4 separate regions of the Homo sapiens genome follow, and all the other regions are linked to region 2. The links come from fine-mapping of genetic effects on gene expression. A gene starts in region 2. Each other region holds a variant in brackets. All regions are shown on one strand. Distances are from middle to middle. Region 1 overlaps EOLA2-DT (EOLA2 divergent transcript). Region 2 holds the start of IDS (iduronate 2-sulfatase). Region 3 overlaps IDS (iduronate 2-sulfatase). Region 4 overlaps EOLA1-DT (EOLA1 divergent transcript).

The links. PIP is the estimated chance that this variant, and not a neighbour inherited with it, causes the effect.
Region 1: its variant is fine-mapped to the expression of IDS in whole blood (TOPMed, PIP above 0.99).
Region 3: its variant is fine-mapped to the expression of IDS in whole blood (TOPMed, PIP above 0.99).
Region 4: its variant is fine-mapped to the expression of IDS in testis (GTEx, PIP 0.92).

Annotation. Positions count from the first base shown.
Region 1 is chrX:150,015,163-150,023,351 of GRCh38, forward strand. EOLA2-DT (EOLA2 divergent transcript) reads left to right here. Exons shown (of 12, transcript NR_027456.1): 10 at 789-978; 11 at 1,175-1,338; 12 at 1,449-1,625. Among named protein-coding and RNA genes, the nearest start is that of EOLA2-DT, 81 kb to the left of the region's middle. The variant C/T (reference allele first, on the strand shown) is at 3,936.
Region 2 is chrX:149,502,001-149,510,189 of GRCh38, forward strand. IDS (iduronate 2-sulfatase) reads right to left here and starts at 3,306. Exons shown (of 9, transcript NM_000202.8): 1 at 3,035-3,306; 2 at 2,157-2,293; 3 at 1,312-1,489. The coding sequence starts at 3,137. RefSeq lists enhancers at 1,885-2,433, 2,557-3,058, 3,051-3,210 and a silencer at 2,395-2,494.
Region 3 is chrX:149,477,225-149,485,413 of GRCh38, forward strand. IDS (iduronate 2-sulfatase) reads right to left here. Exons shown (of 9, transcript NM_000202.8): 9 at 1-5,994. The coding sequence ends at 5,522. Among named protein-coding and RNA genes, the nearest start is that of IDS, 24 kb to the right of the region's middle. The variant T/C (reference allele first, on the strand shown) is at 4,395.
Region 4 is chrX:149,522,514-149,530,702 of GRCh38, forward strand. EOLA1-DT (EOLA1 divergent transcript) reads right to left here. Exons shown (of 10, transcript NR_027455.5): 8 at 7,000-7,080; 9 at 6,854-6,915; 10 at 5,078-5,845. It also overlaps the pseudogene IDSP1. Among named protein-coding and RNA genes, the nearest start is that of EOLA1-DT, 13 kb to the right of the region's middle. The variant G/T (reference allele first, on the strand shown) is at 4,499.

The DNA of each region.
Region 1 (8,189 bases), 510 kb after region 2:
TCCAATAATGGCACTTTTTATAGGTTATTTCATAAGTACTCTTGGTTGGACATATGCTAAAGTATTGTTACAGGTTGCTGAGGCAACCCGCCTGCTACAGTTGTGGTTAACTCTAAAATTTACTGATAATGCTGACCTGAGACTTGAGTCTTATCTTCACTGAATGCAGTACAGGTGTATTGTAGGTAGGCTGTAGGAGGACCATAGCTACCTCTAAATCTTTACAGAAGATTTTGAATGTGGCTTTTGTTGCATAGAAAATAAATAAAATAAAATAAATCTCTACAGAAGACTGGCAAGAGATTGGTGCATATTTAATAGCAAACAGTGGGATGCTTTGAAAGGGATGGATAACATAGAACATTGAACAGCAAGAGCTTTAGTGGGGTTTAGGTTTTAGTAGTTGTCCAGCCAAGACTCTGCCTGTTACTGAAGCTAGGGATATGTGGAGTGACCAATTTACATCAGTCATAGTAGAGAAGTAATTGCTTTTATCTGACAAAAGCAGTCTGGACCCAGTCAACAACATGCTGATGCTACAGTCCCTATTCTTGATGTTTTATTGGAAAGTGGTAAGACTTCTTTTTCTCTCTGAGCTGGTACCACCAATTTGCAGTGGTATGTTCTAGAAGCAAATCATATTTCAGAGCTCTTTGGTTGTGTAATTTTTTTCAATAGGCATGATGAGTATTCTGGAAGCTGTATCATGGTGCCTTTTGCTTGGCTGTGTGTCATTACTATAATGCATAGGTTTTTTACTTGTTTGTGTGATTGTTTTTATTCCAAAGACTGCCATCCAGGGCCATGCAGCAAACAAGCAACAGGGAAATATCCCACTATGCAATCCTATTTTGAGATGATATTTAGGATGAGAGAACATGCATTAGTTACCTACCAGCTTGACAGGAATGGATTTCCAAATCTGACACACCATAGCCTGAATTCTCACCAGTTTGCTCCTGGAAAGGCCCGCTCATGGTAAGCTCCTTAGAGTTTGTTAGTAGTGGGGAAGCCTTGAGTTTCAGGAGAACGTGTTTGGATGGCATTTTAAGAAGCCATTCCATTTTTGGTAGAGTAGAAAAAGTCTGCATCTGAGTCTGTAGTACAGTCTGTTCTCTGGATGAACACAATGTCTCTCTCACATTTTTCTGATATTTATTCTGCAAATCAGCAGCATGAGCCCCTGCCACTCTTCTAAATAAGCTTCCAGGCATTACCTGCATGCTGTGTTCCTGTGGTGGGATGGCAGTAATCTCTGCTAAGATAAACGGGAGCTTCTGTGGATAAAGCATAAACGCAGTGAAGTGTGTGTGGCTGGAAGATTTAATGCCTCTACAGGTAATTTTTTTAGAGGGGGATCTGGCATTTGATCAAATCCAGAGTCATTATGTAAATTTAATCACCTTGCAACACACTAGTAATTTTATTATCTCCTTTTCATTTGACAGTGCTTAGATACAAGTTGAGCTTGGAATTCCAGAGGTAGAGCACTGCTGATTGGAGACATATTAAGTAAAATGTACTGTGGAAATGAGATAAAACCTTTATTCTTGCTAATGATTGTCATTGTATGTATTCAGGTGTCCAACAAAGGATTTTAGAATAAAGTGTGCCTTTAAAGTTTCCCACCTTCTTAAAGCTCCCAATGAATTGCAAAGGGCCTGTTTGGAATGGACTGTATTAAATCTACTTCAAATGAAAACCTTTACACTGAGTGAAATATGGTTCAACAATTCTTAACACAAGGCCTTTACACTTGTGTAGCCCATTTTGGTTTGGCCTATCTTGTCACTAGAATGCTGTCTGAGCTTGGATTATTTATGCCCTAAGATTTACTTAAAATTGAAGGGAGTATTTCCATTCATCAACACTAGTTTTGATAGATGCTTAAAAGGTGCAGTGAGGTTGATGATCCTGAATACACAAATTATTGATCACCACATCAAGTTGGATTTCCCTAAAGATGTATGGCTTTCTGACCTTGTGATTTACACTAATGATTATGTCTTAATAAAAGTAATAAAGCTAAATACTTTATACGTGATCTAAGGAGTGAGATTAGAAAGGAAGCAAGAGGAGAGACATACTGTGTTGAACTGACCTTGCTAAGGCAGAAGAAATGGCATTTTATGGTGTTTTTTTCTTTCCTTCACTTCTCTGTTTTACTTCTTCCGCTTTTTATCTCTTAATTTGAAAGAAACTCTTGGGAATATCTCTTCTCCTGCAGACAAAGACATCATGAGCTCCCCCATCCATACCCTAGAACATGTAGGCCCTTGGTCAACCATAGAGTCTTTCCTTTAATCAGGTGATATCTCTCCTTTTGTACCTTGCAGGCACGGAAGCCAATGACTTGGGCAAATGCCCCTAATTCAGGATCAACTCAGATGACCAGGTTTCCCCTACCTAGAGTGCTACTTATTGCAGTGAAAACTTTTCTTCTTTCCAAAAACCTTTAATTAAACGTTTAATAACTCCCTGACTCATAATATGGCTTCATAATGGGACATCAAAATGGTATAATCTAGGATTAAGATTTAAGTGCCTTACTATCTAGTTTCCCGTTGAGCTGAGTATCTGTTCTCTGTTTACCACTCATGCCTCAATTTTCTTATTCTAAAATGGAAGTAATGATCACTACCTACCTCCAAGGGTTGATACAGGATTCAGTGAGGCATTTGATGTGAAAGTATCCAACACTCAGTTTGGCATAGAATATATGTTCAGTGAAGGCAAGTGGAATTTGAGTGATCTTGTGAGTGCTAAGAGGTTATAATCCAGGGTTAGTATGCAACCCTAATAGTGGGGCTACCATGCACAGTCACAGTGAGGGTCTGAGTCAAATGAGGATAACTGGGCTCTGGCTTTGGTGTCTCCTTTTGTGGGTTGCAGCTGGTAAAATAAGTCCTCTTTTGTCACAACATCATACAAAAGTAGGTTCACACATGTACACTCACACACACGTGGTTTGGGTGAGAGAGTATATCAAATAATCCCACAGTAGAGAGATGATGAGATTGCTCTTAAGGGATGTCCTAATTTGGATAAAACTTGTGTGACTTTAGGAAATGGACTTACCCTCTCTCTCTCAGTTTCTTTCTGTCTCTCTCTCTCTCGTCTATCCATTCATCCAACCATCTGTCCATTCATCCAATAAGCACTTATGAAGTATACCCATCACTATATTTCTATCACCATTACTGAGTAGCGATGATAGAAAGACTGATACTTTTCCTTTCCTTAAAGAGCTTATACTCTTGTTGGAGAGAGGGACAAGCAAACAGTTATAAAACACTCTTAATCCATTTGGGCTGCTATAACAACATACCTTAGACTGGAAAATTTTATAAATATCATAAATTTATCACCAACAGTTCTTGAGGCTTGAAAGTCCAAAAATTGAGGTGCCAGCAGGTTTAGTTGTCTAGTGAAGGCTCTCTCCTTTATAGATGGTCCCTTCTTGCTGCATATTCACACGGTGAAAAGGGCAAGAGGCTAATAAACTCTCTGAGCACTCTTTATAAGAGCACTAATCCCATTCATGAGGATCCACCCTCATGACCTAATCACCTCCTAAAAGTCCCATCTCTTAATATTATTACTTTGGGGATTAGGTATCAACATGAATTTGGGAGTGACACAAACATTCAGACCATAGCAAATACTATTTCAAAGTGACAAAAGCATGCAGAGGGTATCATGGGAATAAAGAGAAGGTTCCTTTCCCAGCCTGGAGTGGAAATGAATGGTCAGAGAAGACTTCAGGAAGAGGTGATGCTTGGGCTAAGTCCTAAAGGGTAAAGAGGTGTTTACATAGTAAAAAGTGGCGGGGGCGGGTGGAAGTGTGTGTTTAAGCTGAGGGCAAACCCTCAGGAATTGCTCTGCAGTTCCTATACTGTCCAGTACTGGTAAGAGTTCTGATCAGATTTGATAGC[C/T]ATACATGAAATGTGGACTCAGTGTTTGTTTGTAGCCCACCAGATGTGTTGAGAACACTGTGGATAAGTGCATATTTTAGTGCTTCTGTAAAGCCCTAGAAAGTAAATATTTTAGGCTTTGAAGGCCATGAGGTCTCTTTTGCAACTATGCAACTATGCAGTGCTATCTCATCACAGATTTAATTTGCATTTTTCTAATAGTTAACAATGTTGAAAGTATCATGTGCTTATTTGCTATCTACACATCTATGTTGAAATGTAATGTTGAAATGTTTGATGTATTTTCCCCATTTTCTAAGTGGACTTTTTTCTTACTACTGAGTTTTGAGAGTTCTTTATTATATTCTAGATAAAAGGCCTTTGTAAGATATGTGATTTGAAAATATTTTCTTCTAGTCTGTAGCTAGTCTTTTCATTCTCTTAACAGTGTATTTCACTGAACAAAACTTTTTAATTTTGATAAAATCCAATTTATCAACTTCTGTTTTTATGGATCATGCTTTTGATGTCATATCCAAGTACTCTTCAAGTAACTCAAGGTCAGGAAAATTTTCTCCTATTTTTTTCTAAGCATTTTATTGTTTTATGTTATATGTTTAGATCTATAATCCACCTTGAGTAAATTTTTGTTTAAGGTGTAAGGTTAGGTTAATGTTATTTTTTTTCATACTGTTATACAATGATTTCAGCACCATTTGTTGAAAAAACATATCATTTCTCCATTGAAATGCTTTTGCATTTTTGTCAACAATGAGTTGGCTATGTTTATGTGAGCCAATTTTTAGACTCTGTTTTCTGTTTTATTGATCTGTGTGTCCTTCCCTTTGACAATACCACACCGTCTTGATTACTGTGTATATACAGTAGGTCTTAAAATCAGTTAATGTTATTTCTACAGTTTTATTCTTTTTCTTTAAAATTGTTTTAGCTCTTTTAGTTCCTTTGCTTTTTATATAAATTCTACATTCCACTTATCTGTAAATACAAAAAGTTCTATGGGATATTGATTAGAATTGCATTAAATTATGCTGTTTCTTTCAGTCCATAAGCATGGTATAACTCTATTTAAATCTTCTTTGATTTCTTTCATCAGGGTTTTATGGTTCTCAGGATGCAGAGTCTGTACATATTTTGTTACACTTATACCTAAGTATTTAAATTTGTTTTGAGCTATTATAAATTTTAAATGTATACATATATTTAAATTTTGGTTTTCAGTGGTGCATTGCTGGTATATAGAAATATGCTTGATTTTTGTGTGTTGACTTGTATTCCATCACCTTTATAGTACTCACTTATTTTTAGGAGTTTTTATGTAGACTTCTTGAGATTTTCTGTGTAGATAGTCATGCTGTTTACAAACAGAGTTTTCTTTCTTTTTTTCTGATATCTGTGCCTTTTATTGATTGATTTTTGCCTTATTGCATTGGCTAAGACTTCCATAATGATGTGGAATAGGTGGTAAGAGTGGATGTCTTACATTGCTACCAGTCTTCAGGAGAAAACATTTAGATTTTCACCATTAAGTATGATGTTATCTGTAGGTTTTTTGGAGATGTTCAAGTTGAGAAAAGTTTACTTCTATTTCTAGTTTGCTGAGATTTATTTTTAATAATTAATGGATGTTGGCTTTTGTCAAGTGCTTTTTCTATATCAATTGGTACAATTATGTGGCCTTTTTAGACTTAGTATGATCAGTTATATCAATTGAATTATTCTATTATTGAAGCAACCTTACAATCTTGTGATAAACTCCACTTGATTGTGGTGTCAGAAAGGGCCTCTGATAAATCTCCAGATATGTACTCAGTTTATTTCTCTTTGCCCTGTAATGTAAATGCAGTTATACTGGTATCATAAGGGTACATTTCGGTACTAGGGAAAGGTCAGAGAGAGAATGCTGAGAGGTGGAAGGCATTCTGCTTGAATGAGGAGCCAAGGAAGGCAATGGAAGCTAGGGGAGAGAATGTAAGAACTGATCCGTGAGCAAGCCAAAAGTGAGCCAATCCATCAGGCTACAACCATTGAGTGAGTGCCTGCTATGTGCCGAGCAGTTGACACAGGCTAAAAGGTTCTAAAAAGAGTCAAGATTGGATAACAAAGAAAGAAGGCCCTTGAGGAACTTGATCATGCTGGGGGCTAGAAGTGAGAGGGTTTGTATATTCTAGTTCTGGAATTTGGCTGATGAGCACTGGACCCAGGACCCAGGTGGCTGCCTGGAGCAGCCTGAGGTCCTTTCTTGGCCTGCTGGTAGGTAAAATAAATGAGAGGAGAAGAGTCTGGGAAAGGTGGCCTCTGTGGCTTATCTGGCACCTGCAATTTGATTAGATGTATATAACCTGTGTCTTAAAATCCCTCGCATTGGGCATGGCAGGCCAACATGCAACCAGCAGGTACTGAGATAGGACCATGGGCTCTGAGAGGGAGAGATAATTAGAGATTTTCTTCAAAACTGAGGACTTGACCTTCCTGCTTACTTACTGTGATCACTATAATGCCACTGCCTTAGGCAATGATACCCAGTTTGATCTCCTCTCAGATACTGTTAGGTCAGTGTCTCCATCCATTATTTTCTGTGGAAGCTCTGGCAGCCTGAGAGTTTGAGCAAAACCAACCTGACCACCGATTTTTTAGTATATAGCTTGGTATTGTCAACCATGATTGCACATTAGGATTGCCAGAGACAGAACCAGCTTAATAGACATGTGACCAGTGCATTTACACAGGACCCCATGCTCAGAAGGGAGGGCCATGCTGGGAGATTAATGTTCTATTATTATTATTATTATTATTATTATTATTATACTTTAAGTTTTAGGGTACATGTGCCCATTGTGCAGGTTAGTTACATATGTATACATGTGCCAAGCTGGTGCGCTGCACCCACTAACTCGTCATCTAGCATTAGGTATATCTCCCAATGCTATCCCTCCCCCCTCCCCCCACCCCACAACAACCACAATGAGATACCATCTCACACCGGTTAGAATGGCAATCATTAAAAAGTCAGGAAACAACAGGTGCTGGAGAGGATGTGGAGAAATAGGAACACTTTTACACTGTTGCTGGGACTGTAAACTAGTTCAACCATTGTGGAAGTCAGTGTGGCGATTCCTCAGGGATCTAGAACTAGAAATACCATTTGACCCAGCCATCCCATTGCTGGGTATATACCCAAAGGACTATAAATCATGCTGCTATAAAGACACATGCACACGTATGTTTATTGTGGCATTATTCACAATAGCAAAGACTTGGAACCAACCCAAATGTCCAACAATGATAGACTGGATTAAGAAAATGTGGCACATATACACCATGGAATACTATGCAGCCATAAAAAATGATGAGTTCATGTCCTTTGTAGGGACATGGATGAAATTGGAAATCATCATTCTCAGTAAACTATCGCAAGAACAAAAAACCAAACACCGCATATTCTCACTCATAGGTGGGAATTGAACAATGAGAACACATGGACACAGGAAGGGGAACATCACACTCTGGGGACTGTTGAGATTAATGTTCTGTGGTTTCCATTTGAAACTTAATGATTTTTATCTTTTTTATCTTCAAACCTGTGTTTTGTAAGTGAAGTGTAATGAGACAATGAAGCATGTACTGGGGGCTTGAAATCTTGATTCACATATGGATCTACCTCCTACAAACTCCCCACATCTCCAGGATGGGTTTTTGGCCACCACTCCCTTGATTTCTGGTGCCCGTGGCCTTACCTGGGCCCCCCTTTCTCATCCTTGTTCATCCATCCCCAGCAGGAGCCTGGATGTTGGGAGAGTCAGGATCAGATGCATGCACCTTGCAGCCCCTCTAGGGAGGGCATGACATCGATCATCTCTGCTCCAGTTTCACAGCACCAGGCACATTCAGTGGGAAACACAGTGGCAGCAAGCCTCTTGTCTATCCCTGATTTAGGTACCTAAGTGTACCCTGGTAAAGAGGTTGTAATATCCTTGGGGGATGTCTGTCTTCTGTGGGAGGGGATGGTGGGCCCATGGGAAGAGAGATGCTAAACCTCAATTTCCTTACCTTCTGATAAGGCACAGCATGTCAGTCTGATGGCTGGTGAAAGGGACCCAGTAGTTGTCAGGCCCAATCACACACCCAAGACACAAGTCATTGGGTGGAGCTCCTGGGTGCCTGCAAGGGTCTACCCTCAGCCCATGAATATCCCCATGCCCAAGAGAGTATCGTTTGGGCCTGCTTCATGTCTGGAGAGACCCTCTCTTTCTCCTT
Region 2 (8,189 bases):
GATGATGATAAAAACCCACCTTGCTTGCTGTTGGGAGGATTAAAGGAGTGGCCAGCATGGTAAACGGTACATACCTGGCACACAGTGGTGGCTACTGTCATCTTGAAGCAGGCCCAATGCTAACAGAAAAAGGTCTTGAGAACAAAGATTCAGCTGAAAAATGTGTTCCCACAAGGGCTGCAGGGAAAGGTTTATTCTCTGAGAAGGACATGGTGCTTAGAGCCTGGTGCCAAAATCCAATCATCAGGAGGGAGGAGGTCAAGCAACATCACTCAGTCCTTGCCTGGTTTCCCCTCCCAAAGCACAATCTCCTCCCTCTGCTGTGTTTCCTCCTCTCTCCAAAATCATCACTTCCCTCCAGCTGCATTTGGGCAAGGGGTATGGTAATGAGAACACCAAACTGCAGAAAGTTCTCCTGACACTGGACTTTTGGCTGTGCAATATGATTCCTGACAGGTTCACCTCTGAAACTGGCCTGACTTAGTAGAGCTGAATGTCACTCTCAACCTGGGCTGGCCAGCTGAGCTCCTGCAGAAGGCTGCCAAGCCTGCCGGTGTAACCACTGAGCAAAGGGAAAGAGACTGAAAACATTCGTCATTCCCAAATGATAAGCATTATTGTCCCTATGGTGCTCTTGTCTTCCAATACTTTTTTCTCCATTTTTTTTCTCAAATACTCATGCATTACTTCTATAAATAAAAAGTTTTAAAGTTTGTTTGCTTTTCACTATCCCCATATTGGCATTAAAGAGAGCCAGTTTATCAGGCAGCATTTGAGGTAAGGAATGTCCGTCTCTGGGACCCTATAGATCCTGGGTACCAGATTACACTCATCTTTCTGACTTAATTTCCAGAGTGGATAGCAGCCCCTACCTAAGCACAGCCCCCTCATTGGGCAATAAGTCAGCAACAGCAATGCTGGCCACACGGGAGGCCCTCAGGTGTCCTCACCCCACCCCTAGGTTTACTGACAGGTACCCTGCAGGGGAGAGGGTGGGGCCCTGAGCTGGACTCCACCCAACACTGCCACCTCCCCAGCCTGTGTCCTCCCTACCACCCGAGGAGCTGAAAGACCCAACAGCACACCCTCAGTGGTTTCTGAAAGGAAGCAAAGCTCTTTCTACCCTTTTTCACTTTGGGTGAAAACGTGGCTGGGTTGACAAGTCAGTTTTTTAGAAAGGAAGCACTGACTAGCGAGGGACTCGCCCAGCCAGAAGAGGGCTCTGCAAAGACAGCCCCATCCCCAGGATGGGAATGCTGGATTCAGACACCACAAACCAAGAGAACCCAGACTCTGGACATGGAGCAGTACCAGGGTGAAAGACTTTTCCCACCGACATGGTCACATAGCCATTCTCCTTGAAGTACTGGGGGATGGTGGAGAAGTTTCCAGCGTGCACCCTCCAGTAGGAGTTGAAGTCGTACAGGCGGGTGGTGTCAGGTCTCCTGCCAGTGAGGAAAGAAACGCGGCTCGGGGCGCACACTGCTTGCTGTTAGGGAGCAGAAGCAGAGGTAAGCATCGCCACAGCAAAACATGTCTGCCATCTCTTAGGTAACCAAGCAACCGCCCTCCCGAGGCTCCTAGCAAACAGCTTGGTAGCTGAGTCATGCAGAGCTCAAACCAGACACTGGGATTTGGGTGTCACCTAGGCAACAGACTGCTTCCGGGAGAGAAAAGGGAAGCAATCAGCCCCTGAAACCAGCAGATGCTTATCTCCTCCTACGCAATGGCCTCCCCAGGCACACAGAGCGGCCAGTGTTGCTGGGGGCAGAGCCATGAGGGGGTTCAGGGAGCAGGGCCACCCTGGCTAGCTCTCACCTGAGGCCCAGCCTGCAGACCTGTGGGTGCCCTTCTGCAGCACCCCTTCCTTCTGAGCACCAGGCAAGCGCCCGTTCTGGGAGAAAGCTGGCCAGGGCTGCCATGAACACATCAGGGCCAGGGCGCACCTTGCACCCAAGGAGAAGGCCACCCTTGAAGGTCAAGCTTTCCCATGAGTGGAAAACCAGATTTTCTCCACTACCATTTTCCAGACTATGCTTCCCTCTAACAAGATGTCCCGCACAATCTGTGCCATCTGACAATAGCTGAAGCTCCCCGCCCCCAACCCTCAGTGCACGAAGCAGCACACACCCACAGCTAGAGGTTCCCAGACATACCTGCGCAAAGGCATTCTGGAAGAGGAGGCTGTGGGATGCCAGTTGGTCAATATTTGGGGACCTCACCAGCTTATCCCCATAACAGCCCAGGGAGGGGCGCAGGTCATCCACGATGATGAGAAGAACGTTCAGAGCATCTACACAGGAGGGAGGGGCTTTGGTGAGGTAACCTGCACTGACACTGAACCCTCCCTCATGGTAGGTGCTAGGTTACTAAGAGGCCCAAGGCTGGACCCTGCACCTTAACAGCCTAGCCAGGGAGGGCGCTGTGCCTCAGCAAGGGTGGGAGTGGGGCTCGAGGAGGAAGCCTGAGTCCTGGGTGGCAGGGTTAGGCTTTGGTCATGGCCTCCAACCTGGGTGAGGAAGCGAGATAGTGAGTGAAAGATGGTGGAAAGGAAAGATGAATTTAGGAAAAAAAGAGAATGATGTATGCAGGAAAGGACAGATGGTTGGATGGAGGAAGATAAGGAGGAAAAGATGAATAGCTGAAGGGAAGAAAGGATGGAGAGAAGGAGGGGAGAAGAGAGAGAAATATGAATGGATAGAAGGTAAAAGGGACGGATGGACCAATGGAGGGAGGAAAGGAGGGGGAAAGATGGATGGATAGAGATGGGAAAGATGGGGGGAAAGAGGAAGGGAAGCACGGAGGGATAGGAGATGGATGGATGAATAGATGGAAAGAGGGAAGGGAGGGATGAAGGGACGGTAGGAAGGAGTGAAAAATGGAGGGAGGGAACGAATGATGGATGAAAGAAGGAATGGTAGGAGAGAGGAAGGGTAAAAAGAATGGATATAAACAAAGAAGGAAGGAAAGAAGGAAGGAGGAAGGAAGGGAGGGAGGAAGGGAGAAGAGATGGCAGGGAGGGCGTGGGCGGCACCTGTGGTCGAGTTGGCCTGCGTTTCGGATCCGAGGGCGACGCAGACGGAGCTCAGAACCAGACCCAGCCAGAGAAGGCCTCGGCCGGTCCGGGGTGGCGGCATTTCGGCTTCGACGCGGCCGCTTCAGAGCGGCGGGGACAGGCTGCAGCAGGTGGCGCAGTTAGCAGCCGCCGCCGCAGCCACAGAGACCTCCTCGTCGGGAACCCATGAAGACTGCGCAACACAGCCGCCGCCCGGGCCCGCAGGCCCGGGCGCTGGCCGCAGCGCGAGTGCGTCCGTGCGACTCTTCCCTGCGTCCCTCCCCTCCGGGGCGGGTTCTAGAGGTGCGCGTCATCCTGCAGCAATAGGCGTGGCCGAGAGACAGGCGCAGAGCGGGGGCGGGCCAGTTGCCTTGCAAGCTTCGCAGACCCAGCGGCCCGCAGGCCCCTAGGTGTAGAACTGCTAGGGGTATAGCGATTCAGCCACTGCCCTTAACAACTAGCAGTTACCCGTCTTTTTGCCTTTGCTTGTGCTATGCCTTTCACCTGGAAGCCCTGCCCTTCCTTCTTTTTATAAAAGACACACTTCTTGTAAGCCAGCCTCAATGCCATTCTCCTTCCATGAGGCCTTTTGAGAAAGTCCCTTCCTCCATCTAAAGGGACTCCCTTTCCTATTCATTTCTTCAACTAATTCTTATTAAGTATCGCAAATATGTATACCAGGCGCTGTTGGTGGCACTGGGGCTCTATGTCCCTGCTTTGGTGGAGCTTAAAACAATAAAAAAATATAGAGAGTGTCGGTGGGCATACCCGGTCTGGAGAAAAATAAAGCGTGGGTGCGGGGCATGCTTGTTATTTTCTATGGGGTGGCCAGGCAGGGCCTCACTAGTGAAGTGGCATTTGAACAAAATTTTGAAGCAAGTGAGGGAGCAAGCCGCATTGAGGTCTGCAAGAAGGGTGCGCCAAACAGAGAGAGCAGCAATTGTGGGGAGATGGAATCCTAGCCCTACACTGTACTGTACTGAATACTATTATACCGTCCTAATACTGCAAACACAGTTTGATTTTCAACTTTGAGAATCAATCTATAACAAAGCCCAGATGACTTAATTATGACTAAACAACAATGGACAATGGGAAGGTACAAATACAGCTGTGATGGTGCTGTGGTGCACTGCTCAGATCTCCCTTCAACACCAAAAATTTTATTTCCCTAGCTGGCTTGAGAGCTGTTAGCTGTCGTTAGCCCTCATCAGAAATTGTCTTAGAAAAAGATAGGTACCTCAGCCAAGGTCACCCCTGTTCTCAGGAAGCCCACATCAGTGATTCAACTTGAAGGTACAAAGGTGCAGCCCCTTACCCCAACTTGGGACATCTCTGAAAGGCCATTTCAGCTTCAGAGCTCCCTGTGGGGTTAACTGAAGCCTTTTTTGAGACTGCCCACTTTCTCTGTCTGTTGAATTTTGATTTCTTCCCTCCCCTCCCCTTCTACAGGTGTTGATCCTAAGAGTACTCCCTAAGAAACTTCCTGCACATTACTCTACATCTTAGTCAGCTTCCTTGGGAACCTGGCCTGCAGCAACAGTTGACAAAAAGCTGGGAGGAGGAAGGGAGATGGCAGGAAATGTAGGCACATTAATTTAGGGTTAGCAATTTAGGATTGTCTCCTTTGCCCCAGCCTATCGCAAAAAAATAATAATAATAATAATAATAAATCAATAGTCGCTGTCCCCAGTTCATAGAAAGAGAAATACAGATTTAGGGATATTACTTAAAGATACAAAAGTAAACAATAGAAAACTTAAAAATGGCAATAAATCTATATAGTAAAAGGAGAAGGGAAAATGGCAGGGAGAGATGAAACAAAATTTGTCATGAGTTGATAACCAATGAAGTTCATTGATGAACACCTGGGGTTTATTATACTATTTTCTGTAATCTTGTATAGGTTTGATCAATTTCCAAAATCCAAGGTTAAAAATATGTACATAAAAAGAGGAATGGATAAGTGATCTCATCTATCATAGGAAGAAGTCAGCAATGTCTAAAGTTGAAAACATTAGAAAGTTGATATAGAAATAGCATAGTATTTAGAAAGACAGGGACAATCTACTAGAAGAAATGAAAGTAGAAACATTTAAAATGAGAACAGAAGAGGGAAGGTGCAGGGCAGAGGGCCTTTGCTTTGTATGGTATGTCTTTTGGTCCTTTTTGACTTAGGTGTTAGTGTCCTCCCCCCAAAAATTGTATGTTGGAGTCCTAACACCCAGTACCTCAGAATGTGATCTTATTTGGAAACAGGGTCTTTAACAGGGTAATCAAGTTAAAAGGAGGTAATTGGGTTGGGCCCTAATCCAATATGACTGGGGTCCTTATCAAAAGAAAAAATTTGGACACAGACACAAACACATAGAGAGAAGACATCCATGTGAAGACAATGGATTGAAGTGATGCATCTACAAGCCAGTGGATGCCAATGATTGCCAGCAAACCACAAGAAGCTAGGAAGAGGCAAGGAAGCATTCTTCTTCTATAGGTTTCAGGGGGTGCATGGTCCTGCTGGCACCTTGATTTAAGACTTCTGGCCTCCAAAACTGTAAGACAATGCATTTCTGTTGTTCTAAGCCATGTAATTTGTAGTACTTTGTTACAGCAGCCCTAGAAAACTAACACTACCTATAAACAATTCAAAATTTAACAAGATTGATTGTCTCAGCTGGGATAGAAAATTATATATGCCACTTGGCACAATTGTGTGTGTTTGTTTTTGTTGTTTGTTTGCTCTGGTGTAAGCTCGAGGTTTTGCTGGGGCTCATAGCAGCAGAAGGACAAGAGTGGGAGCAAGTGGAGAGAGCCAGTAAGAGAGCAGTTCAGGTGGCTGACAGTGGTTAAGAAGACTGGTGGACTGGGGACAAACAAAGATCTAGGAGATGGGTGAGGATATAGAGAGGCAGCAAGGGTGTGAGAGTACTGGTTTTAGTCCCAGAATGAGACCCTGAAATTTAAGATTTCTGAGGTAAAACAGATCCTGGTGATTTAAAGGTCAAGGATGTGGCCTTGAAGCTGGGAGGCTGAGGTGGGGGGGAAGAGATTGCTAGAGGTTAGAGATGAGGAAGAAGTCAAGGGTCTGTGAGTGGCACAGGCTGCTGATGAATACACTGCAGTCCCCCAGAATGATGACAGGACACAGGGTACCAAGGTCACCTGTGAGCCTGGTACCTGAGTCTTCAGTGAATGAGGGATAAGGGCCAATCAATGCTATGTAACAAATGACCACAAGCTTAGTGGCTGTAAACACTACTCATTTGTCACCTCCTACTTTCTGTGGGTCAGAAATCCAGGCACAGCTAAGCTGGGTCTTAGGTTCAGGGTCTCAAAAGGCTGCAGTGAAGGACTACATTCTCACTTAAAGCTCGGGATTGTGGATAGCACAATCCACAGGTGCTCAAGTCCTTTATATAAGATGGTGCAGTGTTTACATATAACATACATACACATCCTCCCGTATACTTTACATTACCTCTAGATTACTTATAATCCCTAATACAATGTAAGTGCCATGTAAATAGTTATTATACTGCATTATTTATGAAATAATGACAAGGGAAAAAAGTCTGTACATGTTCACTGCAGAGACAACCACCCATCTTTTTCAAATTCAACAGGTGGTTGAATCCACAGATGTGGAACACATGGATAAGGAGGCTGATTGTAGTACATTCTACCCATACACAAGGGGTCACATACACTAGGAGGCAGGAAACTTGGGGGCCATCTAGAATGGCATCTACCACAAAAGAGCCCTATCTTGAGTCTCAACTCCAACAGATAACAGAAAATTTAATCTAGTCAATTCCACATTTTCCCAGTTACTTCGGGATTGTCTTACTAATTACCAATTATTGTTATCAAGCAATTTAGGATTGTCTCCTTTGCCCCAGCCTATCACCTAAATTCTGTGAGACTCTTAAATTCGGAGAGAGAGAGCAAGAGAGAAGAGAATCTGCTTGTTGTCAATGGCAACCTGTCCATGCCAGCATCCACTCCCAATGTACAATCCCATCCAGCGCTCAGAGATGGCATACCTTCATGCTGTCTTCCAATGTGGTGTCGTCATTCTAACCTGGTTCCTAGCTGCACAGTCCATGCCATTTTCTATGTGACATTTTTTGGAGACGTGCTCTCCCTCTCGCTCTCTCTCTCCCCCTCTCCCTCTCCCTCTCTCCCTCTTTCTCTTTCCCTCTTTCTCTCTCCCTCCCTCTCTTACCTCCTTGGAGGCACGGGAAAATTCAACTGCTTTCCCATGCCACTTTAGTGTCACAGGAAGCTCAGGGGACTGCTCCAGACACTTCTGCAGCTAAGATATGTGGATTTGGTGTGAGAGGAGTTCTAGGACTCTGGACCTTCTAGGGTACCATACAGCAAAGGGAGTCCCCTTGCTCTTGGACTTCTACCCTACCCCCGCCTTTGAGCCTAACTCCAGGAGGAGGGGACAATGCACACTGGCAAATTGGTATATAGTCCCACACAATGGTAGGATGAGGATTCAGGGGAGAATTCAAGATTTGTCTCTCATTCCAGATCCAGGGATCCTTGGATGGGCACCCCTCAAGGGCAGGCTCTGCCCTGTCCATTTACTACTGTATCCCAGGGGCTAGTACCTTCGTGGGGTTTCAAGGGCTCGGGATGAGAACCATGATGAGAACTACCTGGATGAGGAAAGGGAGTGTCCCAGGCTGTCCTCAGCCCAATGCCAGTGAGGGCTCTCTCCCCTGCAGAGTCATAGGGAGGGCCCTGGGCTCTGTAGGCACGTGAAATGGTGTTCCAAGGAGGAGTCTAACGTGGGCTGTGAATGTTACCCAAATGCGCTGGGCACGGAGGGCACTGTTCCCAGAAGAGACTATCTCAAGGTGCGTGAGGCAACGTGCTAGAACTCTGCTCTCAATCTGAACTCTGGAGAGTATAGATGGTCATCCATAGGCATCTAGTTCCGTAGCCAGGTCTGTGCTACCCTGAGGACTAAGGTGCAGCAGTAGCAGCCCTAGGCTCCCTGGGGTTCCAGAGGAGTGAAAGTGAATGGCAACACAGCCAGAATCTGATTCTGTTTTACTTCCCAGGAAGAAGTGAAGCCGCATGGAGCATGAGGGGGCAGCCAAGGGGCTGGGCATCACAGAAG
Region 3 (8,189 bases), 25 kb before region 2:
AAATCATAGTCCCTGACTTTTATAGAGGAAAAACCAAAAGCAGTTAACCCCTGGCCTTTGCTCCTCTCCTTGTCCACGTCCCAACTCTTGTTTCCTAGCATGTGCTGAATACACTACTAGACCTTGAGCTTTTGTTCCTCATTGGCAGTGGGAGCCCTCTTGCCTGGGCCGTCACATTACTCAGAGCCAAGTACCTGAGGGTTGGCTCCCAGCCACCTCATCTGGAACCAACTTGTCGGTTTGTTCTCTCCCACCCAAACTCTTCCCCCATCAGAGGATAAGGACTATCACCTAGAATCCAGAATCAAACAAGGGCATCCTTTGGTGATTAGCACCATACATGACAGTGATGTCAGGCAGGGCATGGAGTAATAGCCGGGAAACTCTGATCCCAAAGAAAACCCTTGAGCGTGGGCTCCCCACAACAGACTGTGTTTTATCAGACACTCAGAGGAAAGTGGCATCTGTCCCATCAGGTGAGTTAGTGGACAGGGACACCAACGGGAGCTTTCAGTAACATGTGGAAAGGCAAGACCCAAGAGCAGTGAGGGCTCTTGGCCATTATGGCCAAACGATTGGTGATGTGAAGGCAACAACTGACAGTCCTCTCTGCTTGAAGTTCTCATGTGCAGAAGAGAGAAACTGTCCTGAAGTACCAGGGGACCACTGAGTGCAGTGGGGCTGATGGCAGGTTCCACCACAACGGGCTATGCCTAAGGCCCCAAGGGACACCCTGGGTTCTACTTTAATCCCAGATCCCAGGCCAGAATTCAAGAGATTCCTCTGAAGAGCTATAACCTGCAGGATGGACTTGGGAAAGGAAAAGGGGCTGAGCCTCTATTTGGGAGTTTATACCCAAAGCGCTTCACACAGTAAGGTATGGACAGCTTGGGAACCTGACAGGCGGCAAAAGATTGGGCAGAGAGGGAAGAGTCAGTTTCCCTCTGTAGCTAGGGTGAGGCTGCTCCAGAGTCACTTGGTTACCTCCCAGCACAAACCCCAACATCTTAAGTGATTAAAGATTAATGTAGGTTGGGTGTATACCCAAAACAATTAAGAGCAGGGACTCGAACAGATATTTGTACATCCTTGTTGACAGCAACATTATTGCAATGGCCAAAAGGTAGAAATGACCCAAGTGGTCACTGGTGGATGAATGGATAAGCGGAACGTGGTACATACATTTCAGTCCAAAAAAAAAAATTAATGAAGCAGGGCTGTGCAGCCATTACAGCTGTTAATCAAGAACTGTCAATGACATAAAAAACCAAGCTAACATTGTGTTAGATCAAAAAAACAAGATATAGATTATATGTGGTAGTCTGCATGTATGTAAAGCTAAATATGTCCATATCTGCATATATGTCTTTAGGCAGGTAAAAGAATGAAAGGAAATATACAAATGTCAGCAGTGGGTATGTCTCAAATGCTGGGCTTCTTTTCATCTCCAGTTTTCACATGTTCCAGATTTTATGCAATGAGCATATATTACTCTGATAATGGGGTGGAGAGACACAGTAAGCATAAAACCAAACCCCAAACAATGCAAAGGAAAATGAATATTTATTCAATGTCCAGATTGGGGAGGGGTCTGTGTGTTTAACAGGAAAAGATACAGAAAAAAACCTATCACACAGGAAAAGATAAATATGTTTGATTATTTTAAAAGGTGAAACCCATAACCAAAATTTAAAGGCAAATTCACACAAGTGGAAATACAGATGCCCAACTATCGTACAAAGAGAACCATGATCAAGGTCACTAACAAGCAAAGAATTTTAAGTTTTTTTTGTTTTTTGTTGTTTTTTATTTGAGACGGAGTCTCGCTCTGTCACCCAGGCTGGAGTGCAGTGGCGCGATCTTGGCTCACTGCAACCTCCGCCTCCTGGGTTCAAGCAATTCTCTGCCTCAGCCTCCCAAGTAGCTGGGATTACAGGCGCCCGCCACCACGCCCGGCTAATTTTTGTATTTTTAGTAGAGACGGGATTTCACCATCTTGGCCAGGCTGGTTTTGAACTCCTGACCTCGTGATCCACCCGCCTCAGCCTCCCAAAGTGCTGGGATTACAGGCGTGAGCCACCGCGCCCGGCAAGAATTCAAAGTTAAAACAGGTTACCACTTTCACCTATTACCATCAGGTTGCTTATTTTTGTTTTATGTTTTTTATTTGTATGCATGTTTACTTTATGTTTCAGTTTACTACCCCCTAAGGCAGCAAGAGAGCAGGAAGATAAGCAAAATAGAGATGTTTTTGACAACTTGGCACTGAGAGACTATCCTAAGGGAATAATCTGAAATACATAAAAACATTTTATTCACAAAATTGGTCATCACAGCATTATTTACAATACTGAAAATCTGGAAATAGCCTAAATTTCTAACAATTGAAAGAAGGTTAAGTAAATTATAAGACTACACAATAAAATATATTACCAGCAATATATCTTTGTGAAAATCTATAATAACCACACATAATACTTAGTAAAAAAGAACATAAATTACATGATAAAGAATATGACCAGAACAATGCAAAAAATTCACACCCCCAAAAAAGACAAGATATTATATGGCAATTTTGTGGTAAAATATTCATGTATTTGTGCTGCATTTCTAATTTTTCCGTAACTGACACATCAGTTTTATAATTAGGAAAAAAATACCTTTTTAAAGTAAAGCGAACACAAGATTCTTTAGCAATGTTCATTCCATCCCACAATAGAGTCTAGAGAGTCACAAAAACCTCAGCCTCCTTCGGGAGGGGGGGAGCTTGGTAGTGAAAAATGGTCATGAATGAATGGGTGAAGAGAGGGATGGGACAACCTAGTAGGAGGGAGGTAGGGATAGGCAAGGGAAAGGTGGGGACCAGTAGTCATACTGGTCAGCCAAGGAAAGGGGCATTGTGGAGTCAGGGAAGACTCTGACTGCTCAACAGAGGTCTGTCTAGACCCAGTAGTAGGCACTGACGGTGTTATCAAAGGACAGGATCAAAGAGAGATTTTAGGAAGACACGTGGATTATTTTAGGGACAGGGGAGGAAAGAGGAGGGGTGGGTAAACTACTTGGAAAGAAAGGGAGAAGGACTGAGAAGATGGCAATGGGAGTGGGGAGGAAGGGGCTGATTGCCTTTGTGACCTCACTACCAAACATACTTTGCTCACCTCCAGATAAGTCTTTGTGGGGCAAATGCAGGATAAAGAAACAGCTCATAAGAGGCACTTGCCAACATCCAACAAATTCAGTTCAAAACCACAGAAAATCTAGGAGTCTCCAAAGAAAATCACAGTCCTGCTGTGTTGCCGAGGCTGGAATACAATGGCACGATCTTCATTCACTGAAACCTCCGTCTCCTGGTTCAAGCGATTCTTGTGCCTTGGCCTCCCAAGAAGCTGGGATTACAGGCATGCACCACCACACCCGGCTAACTTTTGTATTTTTAGTAGAGACGGGGTTTCACCATGTTGGCCAGGCTGGTCTTGAACTCCTAACCTCAAGTGATCCGCCTGCCTGGGCCTCCCAAAGTGCTGGGATTACAGGTGTGAGCCACCGCATCCGACTTCTAACGCACTGGGTTTTAACAAGCCCCTCAAGTAGTTCTGATGCTCCCTCATGTTTGTGAGCCACTGAATGAGGGCCATGCAAAATGTCTAGAATCACTAGTTCTGCTGTCAGCTAAACCACATGAAAGAACCCCTGCTCATGTGAAAGAGAGATTTCTACAAATAAAGTGACGGGAGGACCACTAATAAGTTATGTCCAGCTTAGTGGGGTTGGGGAAAGGTTATATGAAGCAACAAAGATACAGTTTCTCTAAGCCAAGTAAAGGTAAAGAACTGTGGAGCAGGCAATAAAGCCAAATGCACTGAACTATGTCATAAGGAATTTACAGGCTGTATTGTAAAAGCCACAGTGAACATGATGACAGCAACAACGAGGATGAAGAACAGCAAAGAAAAAGCTGAGGGAAACCATCGACCAAAGCAAGCGGAGGCTCAAAAGAGAGACGAGCTTCAGGATCAGGAAATGAACAGGGCCCTTCAGTCACGGAGAAGTCGTTGTTGCCAGAACAGTCAGTCACTTAACTGCTTAGAAGATCACCGTGTTACCATATAACCTCTATTGTAGGCTAATTAATTTTTAAAATCTGTCTAAAATTTACTGATTTTAATATAATATCTTGTCATTTTTGGCAACAATACACTGAAGTAACAATGTAGTTTGCTGTATTTTGTTTCACAAATATTTACCTGGAAACACTGGAGACTTTGTAAAGAGAAAATTACTAAAAATTACTCCTTCACTACAGGACAGTAGATATTTAATATTTATTTAGAAAGCTATTGACACTTCTGATGACTACTGATAACTGAGAAGATTCAACATGTTATAAATATGAG[T/C]TGTAAATATTCCATCCCTTTTGAGATTATATACACTAAGCTTTTTACTACCACTGGCCTTTCTGGATACTTTCATATTTAGAGAATATAGAACTACATTCTGGGAGATTGACAATGACCTAATATTACACTAATGAAAAGTCTTCACAGTCCTCAAAATAATTTAGAATTTAATGTTTTCTTTAATAAGCAATTAAAATGGAATATTTTCTGCCTCCTGAATAAATACATGTCTGTAACCAACCATCCCTAAAGAAGGATACTAATATATTTTGAGTGATTCAATCCACCCATGGATATAGTCACATCTTTAAATGTTTTCCAGTGTGAACAACAGTCTTTTAATAGATGGCCATTGAGTTCAAGGGTCATATTATTTGCTAACAAATTATTATTTGGGCCAGAAAGTATCTGAAAAAAGTTTAACCAAATTTCCTACACATCTCATATCTCTAGTTTATTAAGCATTATTTATTATTTGGTGTAAAAATTCTACATTAATTACTTCATACATATTTTATCTTGAGATTATGAAATCCCATGGTCTTAGAAACAAAAGATAGACTTTAAGACACTGGCTTCTGCTATTTTTTTTTAACTTTAGATTTGAAAAAGAAACATGGATTACATGTTAACATAATATTTTGAATATATAGGGCTCATAAGATATATTATTAAATTATAAACAAAATAATCAGGAACTTAGTGTGGTGCCTAGTTTGATATATGATTACTTTTTGAAATGCACTAAATTCCACAAATAATGAAAGTATTCTTTGTGTATAATGTTATGTTTGGTTATTATGTATGGTCTTCGTATCCAAAGGTATGACATAACTTGAGTTTGTTTGCTTTGTATTTATTCAGTAAATAAGCCGTAACTGTTTTAAAAAGAGGGAAATTAAAAAAAAAACTGGTCCAATTACCAATTATAAATTTTAATAAAGACTAAACGAAAAGGTTTGGCTGTTACATATTCTCAGGCCAAATTGTTGATGCATGTTTGGATTAACTAGCCCTCAGGCTGCTTCCAATATTATGGGTAATCACAAAACGACCAGCTCTAACTCCTCCTCTCACCAGCTGGAAGGGAGCACATCACATTTGCCATCCATGGTTGGCAAAACTCAAGGCATCAACAACTGGAAAAGATCTCCACCTTGGGAATCATTATACATATTGTGATCCTGCAATGGGTCAGAATCCACAAAATACAGTTCCCCTGCATGGATGTCAGAAAAGTTAGCTAGAAATTCATCAGGATTGAAGCCAACCCACACAGTATACCTATAGTCTATGGTGCGTATGGAATAGCCCATGATCTTTATATCTTTTAAACTCGGCTTGTCAGAATTCCACTGAGGGATGTCTGAAGGCCGGGGATACTGGCTATAGGCAATCAGTTCACGGGGATTACCAGGGAGGTACGGATCCTCTTCCAAGTCACGGAATCGAAAATGCTTCAGAAGGTTCTTGCCTTCTCTGCACAGCTCAACGTGAAATGAAGGAACGGGGCAGCGAGGTGGAACCTGCAGTCCTGCAAGTCCAGCCAGCGTGGGAAAAAGAGACACAAGTTCCACAAGGTCCATGGATTGCCTGCCTGAAACAGGAAGCGACAGAGCAGAATGGGTTACATTATAAAAGCCTGCCATGGCCAGGCAGGAGCAGTAAAGGAACCTGTCTGGGCTCCATATGTTTTCTTTTTTTAATTTACAACATTTATCTTTAGCAACAGACGTTTAGAAACACCACCTCGGCACCTCACCCTGCATTAATTACTCATCCAATCAAATAGCAGGATGCAAAATTAGGGCCCCACGAGGCTGTTGGCGCTTTTTAAAACAACCTGAATTTTGGAACCACCGATTTAATAACTGACTCAGACAAGGATCATCAATTAAGGCTACAACCACTAGGTAAAAGAGTCTGTTGAGGAACAGGATATTCTGACTCCCACAGGATCACCCCACACATTACTCCCTTCTGGATGTCTGCATTAGAGTTATCTTTGCATTTTATTACGATCAAATACACACACCATGACATTTACCATCGTAACCACTTTTTAGTATACAGTTCAGTGGAATTAAGTACACTTATACTGTTGTGCCATCATTACCACCATCTATCTCCAGAACTCCTCTTAATTTACACAACTGAAACTCTGTCCCCATTAAGTAACAACTCCCCTTTCTCCATCCTCACCCAGCAACTGGAAACCACCATTCTACTTTCTATGTCTATGAACTGGACTACTCTAGATACCTCATAGGAGTGGGATTATACAGTATTTGTCCTTTTGTGACTGACTTTTTTCACTTAGCATAATGTCCTCAAGGCTCATCCATGATGTAGCATGTGTCAGTTTCCTTCCTTTTTAAGACTGAATAATATTCCATTGCATGGACGGACCACATTTTGTCTGTTCTTCTGTCAATAGACATCTGAATTGCTTCCACTTTCTGGTTACTGTGAATAGTGCTGCTATGAACAGTAATGTACAACCTTTGATTGAATACCTGTTTTCAGCTCTGTGGATATATACCTAGGAGTGGAACTTCTGGGCCATAGAGTAATTCTATGTTTAACTCTGAGGATCCACCAAATTCTTTTCCACAGTGGCTGCACCATTTTACATTCTTACCAGCAATGCACAAGTGTTCCAATTTTTCCATATAATCACTAACACTCTTAACACTTGTTTCATTCTTTTTTTTTAGACGGGGTCTAGCCCTGTCTCCAGGATGGAGTTCAGTGGCGCAATCTCGGCTCAGCTCACTGCAACCTCCGTCTCCCAGGTTCAAGTGATTCTCCTGCCTCAGCCTCCTGAGTAGCTGGGATTACAGGCATGCACCGCCACACCCAGCTAATTTTTGTATTTTTAGTAGAGATGGGGTTTCTCCTTGTTGGCCAGGATGGTCTTGATCTCCTGACCTCGTGATCCGCCCACCTTGGCCTCCCAAAGTGCTGGGATTACTGGCGTGAGCCACCACGCCCAGCCTTTCACAGCTTTTGTTGTTGTTTTTTATTAATAGCCATCCTAGTGGGTATGAAGTAGTATTTCATTGCGGTTCATCCATATTTAAAGTCTAAATACTGTACTTTATATTGATTCCTGTTAAAATTGCAATTGGATTTGCACTACCATTCTGGCCCTTCTGGATCTTTAAGACAGTGCTTTATCATGCTTGATTTCATTTTCTAGACACTTAATTTTTAAGTAAAATAAAAAGAAAACAAGTAAAGAAAGTTGAAAAAGGTACCTTTACAATGGCAAGATCTGGCTGATGCTAGCTAGCTCTTCAACCGAGTGTTCAAACTTACAATACTAGTAACGCTGGCCATGAAGTGCCCCCACCATGTGACACAATGGGAGAATACAACAGCCCATGTAGCACACGTGTCAAAAATGTTACCCTGAATGTAGTCATGTGGAAGCAATCAGATAAATCCAGGCTGTGGGACACTGTTATAGGACAACTGGCCTGGATACTTATAAAAAGATGAGGTCAGGGAGATAATGGGGCCAGAACATGTAAGGCCACTGTGACGACTTTTACTCAGATCAAGAAGGGTACATAAGAGGCTCCTGTGCCGGGCTGTGACATGACTTGACTTGGGTTTTAATGGAATCACTGTGGCTGCTCTGAGGAGGAAAACCTCCAAGGGATCCAGGGCACAAGCAAGGGGACCATTTAGCAAGCTCTTGCAGTACTTCAGCACAAGACAGTGGCAGTCTGGTCCAAGACAGTGGCAGGCGAAGTGGTGGGAAGTGGTACACAGAGTCTGAATGGA
Region 4 (8,189 bases), 21 kb after region 2:
GTTATTTCTGCAGAGTCCCTGAACTGCTCCTGTTCCACCCACTCTGGTTCCTTATTTTGTCCCCAACCACACTAACATGGGCAGTGTCTGGGCCTCCAGCTGTCAGCTTATATGTCCTATTCCTCACTCTCCATCCCATAGCTGTGGCCACCATTGCCTAGCTTGATTTTGGCAGTTTGTCCCTAAGACTAGCAGTCCCCAAGAAAGGTTCCAATACATGTGTCATCTCTATCTTTCACCCCCGAACTAGAATCAATGGCTGCCAAACATCAAAAGTACGAGGTAAAAATCCAATGGTCTTGTTTCTGGCCCACTGTGGGTATGCAACAGGAAATTCATGTGCGCCTTCACTGCTCTTTTTCTCAGGGACATTCTCCCAGCATGTTAGCAAGGCCCAGTTAAATTCCTCAGGGTGAGGGTCCCCTTGGAGAAGGGAGTGAGTTGGTGTGGATTTCTGTACTCAAGGTAGAGCACTTCCAATAACCAGGAGCTCTGGGCATCCCGCCCCTGATCTGGGCAAATCTGGCATGAAGTCTACACACTAAAAATAGCTTTCCCAGCACAGGAAAGCAATGGTAGAGGCTTCCTGATCTGGCTTGCACACCACAGGTGAAGTAATTGGTCACTTACCAGTGTCTCCCCACTTAGATTCCAAAGTCCACTGTATCAATGACATCATGCTAACAACTGGATGAGCAAGACATGGCAGAGATTTTAGAGGCCTTTGAAAGACATAAGCACTTCAGAGAGTGGTAGATTAAGCCCACGAAGATTCAGAGACCTTCCATATCAATGAAGTATTTAAGGGGCTACTGGTCAGGGGCATGCTAGGACCAACCCTCCAAAGTCAGAGGCAAATGATTGTATCTCACACCTCCTACAACTAAGAAGGAAGCACAATGCCATGTAGGCCTCTTTGGGTCTGGAAGCAGGGGACCAAGGGGTGAAATGACCCCACTTATTATCTCTCCTAGTGATCCACATGGGAATTTGTGCTTCCTGTCCCCACAATACAGTCACCACTAGCCAAATTCATCTATTTAAATTTAAATTAAGATAAAATTAGTTGTTATTTTATCTGAATTTTAGATAATTAAAATTCAGTTCTTCAGACACACCAGGTACATTTCAAGTACTCAGTAGGCACATGCAGCTAGTGGCTACCTTATTGAACAGTGGATCCTGGCTATTCAAATGGAAATGCTTCCACCAGTAGACACAGTAGGAGCCCCACTGAATTACGAGCCATGGCTGATAACTGAATTACAAGTCATGGGAACCTTGGGTTCATTCCTCCTGCTATGGCTGTGGGACTAAGCAGGTGTAAAGAAGAGTAGCCACTCTGTCAGGGGTATTGGCTCTGATCATCAGGAGGAGGCAGGGTTGTTCTTACACACTGTGAACAGAGAAGGATATATTTGGCACCCAGGTGATCCATTTGAATGTCTCCTAATAATTCCCTGCCCAATTTTTATGGTAAATGGACACATGCAATTTCCACAGTCTGAGAAGGGCACGGGGACCATGGGCTCAGAAACAATCCTCAGGGATAAAGGTCTGTTACTCGACCAGCCAGGTCACTGAGAACGGCAGACATGGTGGCTGAGACTGAGGGTACTCTAGAATGGATAGTAGATGAAGAAGACCATGAGCATCAGTTGTGGCTTCAAAGCCAGCTGCAGTCATGCAGGCCATACACCGTCCCACTACCCTGCCTCATGTTCACCTCCCTAGGAAAAGGGCCAAGCCAAACCCTGGAGAAGTTATTCCCAAATGAGGGGAGCATCCTGTGTGAAGCAAGCCCATCTGAGGCCTGCAAGGCATGGGCTGTAGTCAATGCTGTGGTCGTTCCACAGCCCAGCCTAATGGTGGAGGTCATCATTCCACTGCCTGCCAAAGGTGTTGCTTGATGATGGCACATAACTAAGTCTCTCTCCAAATATCAGTCAAGGGGTCAATGAAGGGTGGAGAGTACCAACACCTGGACTCCAGCCTCTACTTGCAACATCTCTATAGAATCTTCCCAACCATAGAGCTCCCTCAGGGACTGACTGAGACGTCTGATTCAACTGTCATAAAACAACTCCACTTTCCTCCCAATTCTACTTCCCTCACTCTATTACAGGTGGTTTCTTTTTTTTTCTTTTTTTTTCTTTTTGAAATGGAGTTTCACTCTTGTTGCCCAGGCTGGAGTGCAATGGCGCAGTCTCGGCTCACCACAACCTCCACCTCCCGGGTTCAAGCGGTTCTCCTGCCTCAGCCTCTTGAGTAGCTGGGATTACAGGCATGCACCACCACACCCAGCTAATTTTGTATTTTTAGTAGAGATGGGGTTTCTCCATGTTGATCAGGCTGGCCTCGAACTCCTGATCTCAAGTGATCCACCTGCCTCAGCCTCCCAAAGTGCTGGGATTACAGGCATGAGCCACTGTGGCTGGCTACAGGTGTTATTTTCCAAAGCACATGTCCTATCCTTTCAAGTTGCAGGGATGAACTAGTGAAGGCCCCAAACATTGACCAACTGGCATCCCACAGCCTCCTCTTCCAGAATGCCTTTGCGCAGGTATGTCTGGGAACCTCTAGCTGTGGGTGTGTGCTGCTTCGTGCACTGAGGGTTGGGGGCGGGGAGCTTCAGCTACTGTCAGATGGCACAGATTGTGCGGGACATCTTGTTAGAGGGAAGCATAGTCTGGAAAATGGTAGTGGAGAAAATCTGGTTTTCCACTCATGGGAAAGCTTGACCTTCAAGGGTGGCCTTCTCCTTGGGTGCAAGGTGCGCCCTGGCCCTGATGTGTTCATGGCAGCCCTGGCCAGCTTTCTCCCAGAACGGGCGCTTGCCTGGTGCTCAGAAGGAAGGGGTGCTGCAGAAGGGCACCCACAGGTCTGCAGACTGGGCCTCAGGTGAGAGCTAGCCAGGGTGGCTCTGCTCCCTGGACCCCCTCATGGCTCTGCCCCCAGCAACACTGGCCGCTCTGTGTGCCTGGGGAGGCCATTGCGTAGGAGGAGATAAGCAACTGCTGGTTTCAGGGGCTGATTGCTTCCCTTTTCTCTCCCGGAAGCAGTCTGTTGCCTAGGTGACACCCAAATCCCAGTGTCTGGTTTGAGCTCTGCATGACTCAGCTACCAAGCTGTTTGCTAGGGGCCTCGGGAGGGCGGTTGCTTGGTTACCTAAGAGATGGCAGACATGTTTTGCTGTGGCGATGCTTACCTCTGCTTCTGCTCCCTAACAGCAAGCAGTGTGCGCCCCGAGCCGCGTTTCTTTCCTCACTGGCAGGAGACCTGACACCACCCGCCTGTACGACTTCAACTCCTACTGGAGGGTGCACGCTGGAAACTTCTCCACCATCCCCCAGTACTTCAAGGAGAATGGCTATGTGACCATGTCGGTGGGAAAAGTCTTTCACCCTGGTACTGCTCCACGTCCAGAGTCTGGGTTCTCTTGGTTTGTGGTGTCTGAATCCAGCATTCCCATCCTGGGGATGGGGCTGTCTTTGCAGAGCCCTCTTCTGGCTGGGCGAGTCCTTCGCTAGTCAGTGCTTCCTTTCTAAAAAACCGACTTGTCAACCCAGCCACATGTTTTCACCCAAAGTGAAAAAGGGTAGAAAGAACTTTGCTTCCTTTCAGAAACCACTGAGGGTGTGCTGTTGGGTCCTTCAGCTCCTCGGGTGGTAGGGAGGACACAGGCTGGGGAGGTGGCAGTGTTGGGTGGAGTCCAGCTCAGGGCCCCACCCTCTCCCCTGCAGGGTACCTGTCAGTAAACCTAGGGGTGGGGTGAGGACACCTGAGGGCCTCCCGTGTGGCCAGCATTGCTGTTGCTGACTTATTGCCCAGTGAGGGGGCTGTGCTTAGGTGGGGGCTGCTATCCACTCTGTGAATTAGGTCAGAAAGATGAGTGTAATCTGGTTTCTGCACCTGGTCTCAGAAGCTCCCAGGTCTGGGAATGGGAAAGCGCACTTCAACAGGTGTCTCAGGTGGTCTGGCCACCTCTCTTTGAGTTCATCCTTCCCTTGGCCTACCTGTGCTGCCACATCCTCATCTTGGGCCTCTGGGGCAGAAGCTAGAAACCTCTGGGCATGGGATTTAACAGGCTGCCTGAGCTGGCTGTCAAGGTCACTGGGCTCTTGTTCCTCCTGATCTCAAGATGGATCCTTGGGGCCCACACAGGCATGCGTTCTCCTTAGCCAGACTTCCCCGTATTTGCTCCTGGCTGCAGCAGCACAGGCTGAGGCCCGGCACCAGATGTTCAATACGATCTTGCAGTCAGGCGGTCCACAGCTATTTCTGTAGCATTTGCCATGTGTCAGACCCTGTGCCAGGCCTGGGGGCCCCCTCTGCCTGGTGCAGGGCAGCTCACAAAAGCTGGCAGAGGCCGAAGGCTGCGTGCCAGTATTCAGAATGCCACAGAGCGCCTGGCTGCTGTACCTTCAGAGCCTCCACAGGCACCCCAGTCAGAGTTCCGGGAGTGGATTCCTGAGGTCGCACTGCCGGGGTCCCTCAC[G/T]TTGCCATCCTGCAGGCTTCTCGATCCTCGACCTTTTAGATTCCCGCCACACTGAATCTAAAAGGGACAATGTGACCTCTAAGCTGGTGGCCTAGGAGCCTGCCGATAACCTACCCATTCATCAGCCCTCGTGGGTCAAGGCTGCCTCGTCCTCCCCGAGAGAGTGGAGAGGTCGAGCAGTGGGGATGCCCCTCAGGCCCCGGGGCTTACTGACTGGGGCGGGTGTCAGGGGGAACTCCCTCTCTTTCTGAGCTTCACTGAGCTATCTGAAAGTCCCCACCATACTCCCCAGTACTGACAGCCAGAGGGAGGAACGGCTCACCAGAATCATTGGGCATCTCTGATGGGCATCAAGTCTGCTTTGATTATTGATGAGTGGGTAAGAGGGTCCTCTCAACTTGGGGTCTCCTTGGGAAAGCACTGTCAACTCAGAACAGGTTTCAGCCCTGTTCTGGAGACCACAGGCCCTGGAAGGCTGGGACATCATTTGCAGCCCCAGCGTCATCTATTAGACGGAGCCAGCAAGGTCTCATGCTGTGCGGTACATTTCAACACTTTCTCAAATTTACCCGTGGCAGCTTTTGGTGTGTTTGGTTATTTTTATAACACTACTCACTGTACAATTTCTGTCATGCACATTTTTTGTATCAAAAAGGGTGCTGTAACTTTAAAAGACTGGGTATTTCCAACTTGGAATATTCAAACCATCTTTTGCAAGGGATGTTTTAAATCAACATGAAGGGTTGTGTTGTTTTTAATCAGGGTTAAGGATCTGGAATCAAAGGTTATGGTTTACTCCATCTATGGCGTATCTTAAAAACTGAGCAAGATGTCCTTGCCTTTTTTGAATTTGATGATTGTGCTGCAGTTCCACAGCTCACTGTTAGGTGGCACATACCCCAAACTGAAAACCTGAGCTTGGAGGAAATGAGTGAAAAGATAGGTAGGTACAGGACAGGGCAGTGGTGACACTACAGCATTCAGGGTTCCCAGCCTGTCAAGAATGAGCATGTCTTAGCAGTGAGGCATTTCCACATCTTCTCAAATCCACCTGTGGCAGTTTTTGGTGTCTTTGGTTATTTTTATAACCCTAAATATTTATATACAATTTATATACATGTACAAAAGGGACATGTACATTATATATTTTGATACAAAATATGCACAAGTACATATTTTGTATCAAAAAAAGGTTCTCAGGAGAATTCCACTTCCATTAAGCTGGAGTAGACATACTTTTCCCTATTCTTCCGACTAAGTGACCTAAAACCCCTTGATAATATACACAAAACAAACATAAGACTCTGAAAGGTGGAGTGAAGGCAGATCAGACGGGGACCTTGTGACCTGAGGAACAATGGAGTTAATTAGTTCTCTGGTGTGTGTCTCTCTCTCTTTCTTTCTTTCCCTCTCCTCTCCTTTCCCATTCCTCCCTTCCCCTCTCTTTTTCTCTTTCTTTTCCTCTCTTTCCCCTTCCCTCTCTTCCTCTCTCTCTCCCTCTCCTCTCCTTTCCCCTTCCTCCCTTCCTCTCTCTCCCTCTCTCCCTCTCCTCCTCTCTTTCCCTCTCCTCCTCTCTTTCCCTCTCCTCTCCCCTTCCTCCCTTCCTCTCTCTCTCTCTCTCTCCCTCTCCTCCTCTCTCTCTTTCCCTCTCCTCTCCTCTCCTTTCCCCTTCCTCCCTCCCTCTCTCTCTACCCTCTTTCTTTCCCTCTCCTCTCCTTTCCCCTTCCTCCCTTTCTCTCCCGTCCTCTTTCTCCCTCTCTCTTTTCTTTCTTTGCCCATATATACCAGACATGGAGCTGAAGGAGCTGGGATCTAGAAATGTCAACAAACACAGAGGAAAGAAGAAAGAAGGAATGAAGGAAAAGAGGGAGGAAAGGGGGACGGGAAGGGAGGGAGGAAAGAAGGACCAAAGCCAGAGGACCAGGAAAGTTGTGACTTAGCAAGATAGAAAACTTTTAGACAGTGAGCTGCTTTACTCTAGTTAACACCACAGAAATATAGTTTGATCCCCACTTCCACACATGCCAGCAAAGGCCAACTAGGGGGCTCAGTGTAACATGCTTGCTAAGCTGTAACATCCCTCCTGTCTACCTTGGTGCTGTCGGAGGTGGCCAATTAGGGAGCTGGCACTTTCATCCCTGCCAGGCAACAGCAAGTCCCCATCCCCTAAGGTGTCTGTGCAGGTGATATTGGATACAGTGCTGAAAAATATCGAACCCTCCCAGCCACAAAGGTATGAGTACAGCCCCAGATCAGATCCAAAAAGTCCACTCCTGCCCAGCAGAAACAAGGAGCCCCTCACCCATTTCAGGGATCAATGGAGGCCATGTGGCGAAGGTAGACTACTGCACTCACCACGCAGTAATGCAGCGTGTTCCTTCCCTTTCTTCTGCTGGAGTGATGTCAGAGGATGCCAGCTAAAACAAAGTTTAAATAACACCTTCAACCTACTAACATAATATGAAAATCTCTAGATTTCAATCAAAAGTTACACATCATACCCAGAACCAGGAAGATCTCAAATGGAATGACAGGATACAATCAAGAGATGTCAACACTGATGACAAAGATGTTAGAATTATCTGTAAAAAAATTGAAAGCCACCATTATATGCTTCATTAAGCAATTAAGAACGCATTTGAAACAAACTAAAAATAGAAAGTCTCAGCCAAAAAAAAAATAAATAAATAGAAGACATAATGAAGAACCAAATGGAAATTTTAGAACTGAAAAATACCATAACTGAAATTTTAAAAACTCTATAAAGGAATCACTGGCAGAATAGACAGAACAGAGGAAAGAACCAGTGAACTTGAAGACAGAACAGAAATTTCCCATTCTGAAAAATGAATAGAAAATGCATGGGAAAACAAGATGGACAGAGCTTTAGGGACCTGTGGGACTATGAACAATGATCTCACATCTGTGTCATAAGGGTTCCAGGGGAGATGGGAAAAAGTGTGGGGCTGAAAAATCAAAGAAGCAATGGCTGAAAATTTCCCAAATTTGACAAAAGACATAACTCTGCAGACTTCAGAAGCTGAACGAATCCCAAAGAGAATAAATCCAAAGAAATTCCACACTAAAACACTTGAGTTAAACTTCTGAGAACTATTAAATAAAAACAAAAAAAAATTAACTGAGCATGGTAGCTCATATCTGTAGCCCTAGCTACCTGGGAGGCTGAGGTGGGAGGATTGCTTGAGCCCAAAAGTTCAAGGTTACAGTCAGCTATGATTGCAATGCTGCTCTGCAGCCAGGGCAATGAAGGGAGACCCTGTCTTTAAAATAATAATAATAATGATAATCATTAAAAAAAAAAAAAAATCTTGGAAGCAATGCGAGAGAAATGACACCTTACCAAACCATGGATACCAAAAGGAAGTGGCACAACTTTTTTCAAGGGCTTACAGAAAATAGCTTTCACCTGGGTGCAGCGGCTCACACCTGTAATCCCAGCACTTTGGGAGGCCAAGGCAGGCGGATCACCTGAGGTGAGGAGTTCAAGACCAGACTGACCAACATGGTGAAACCCTGTCTCTACTAAAAATACAAAAATTAGCCATGCGTGGTGGCATGCATGCACCTGTAATCCCAGCTACTTGGGAGGCTGAGGCAGGAGAATTGCTTGAACTCAGGAGGCAAAGGTTGCAGTGAGCAGAGATTGCCCCATTGCACTACAGCCTGGGCC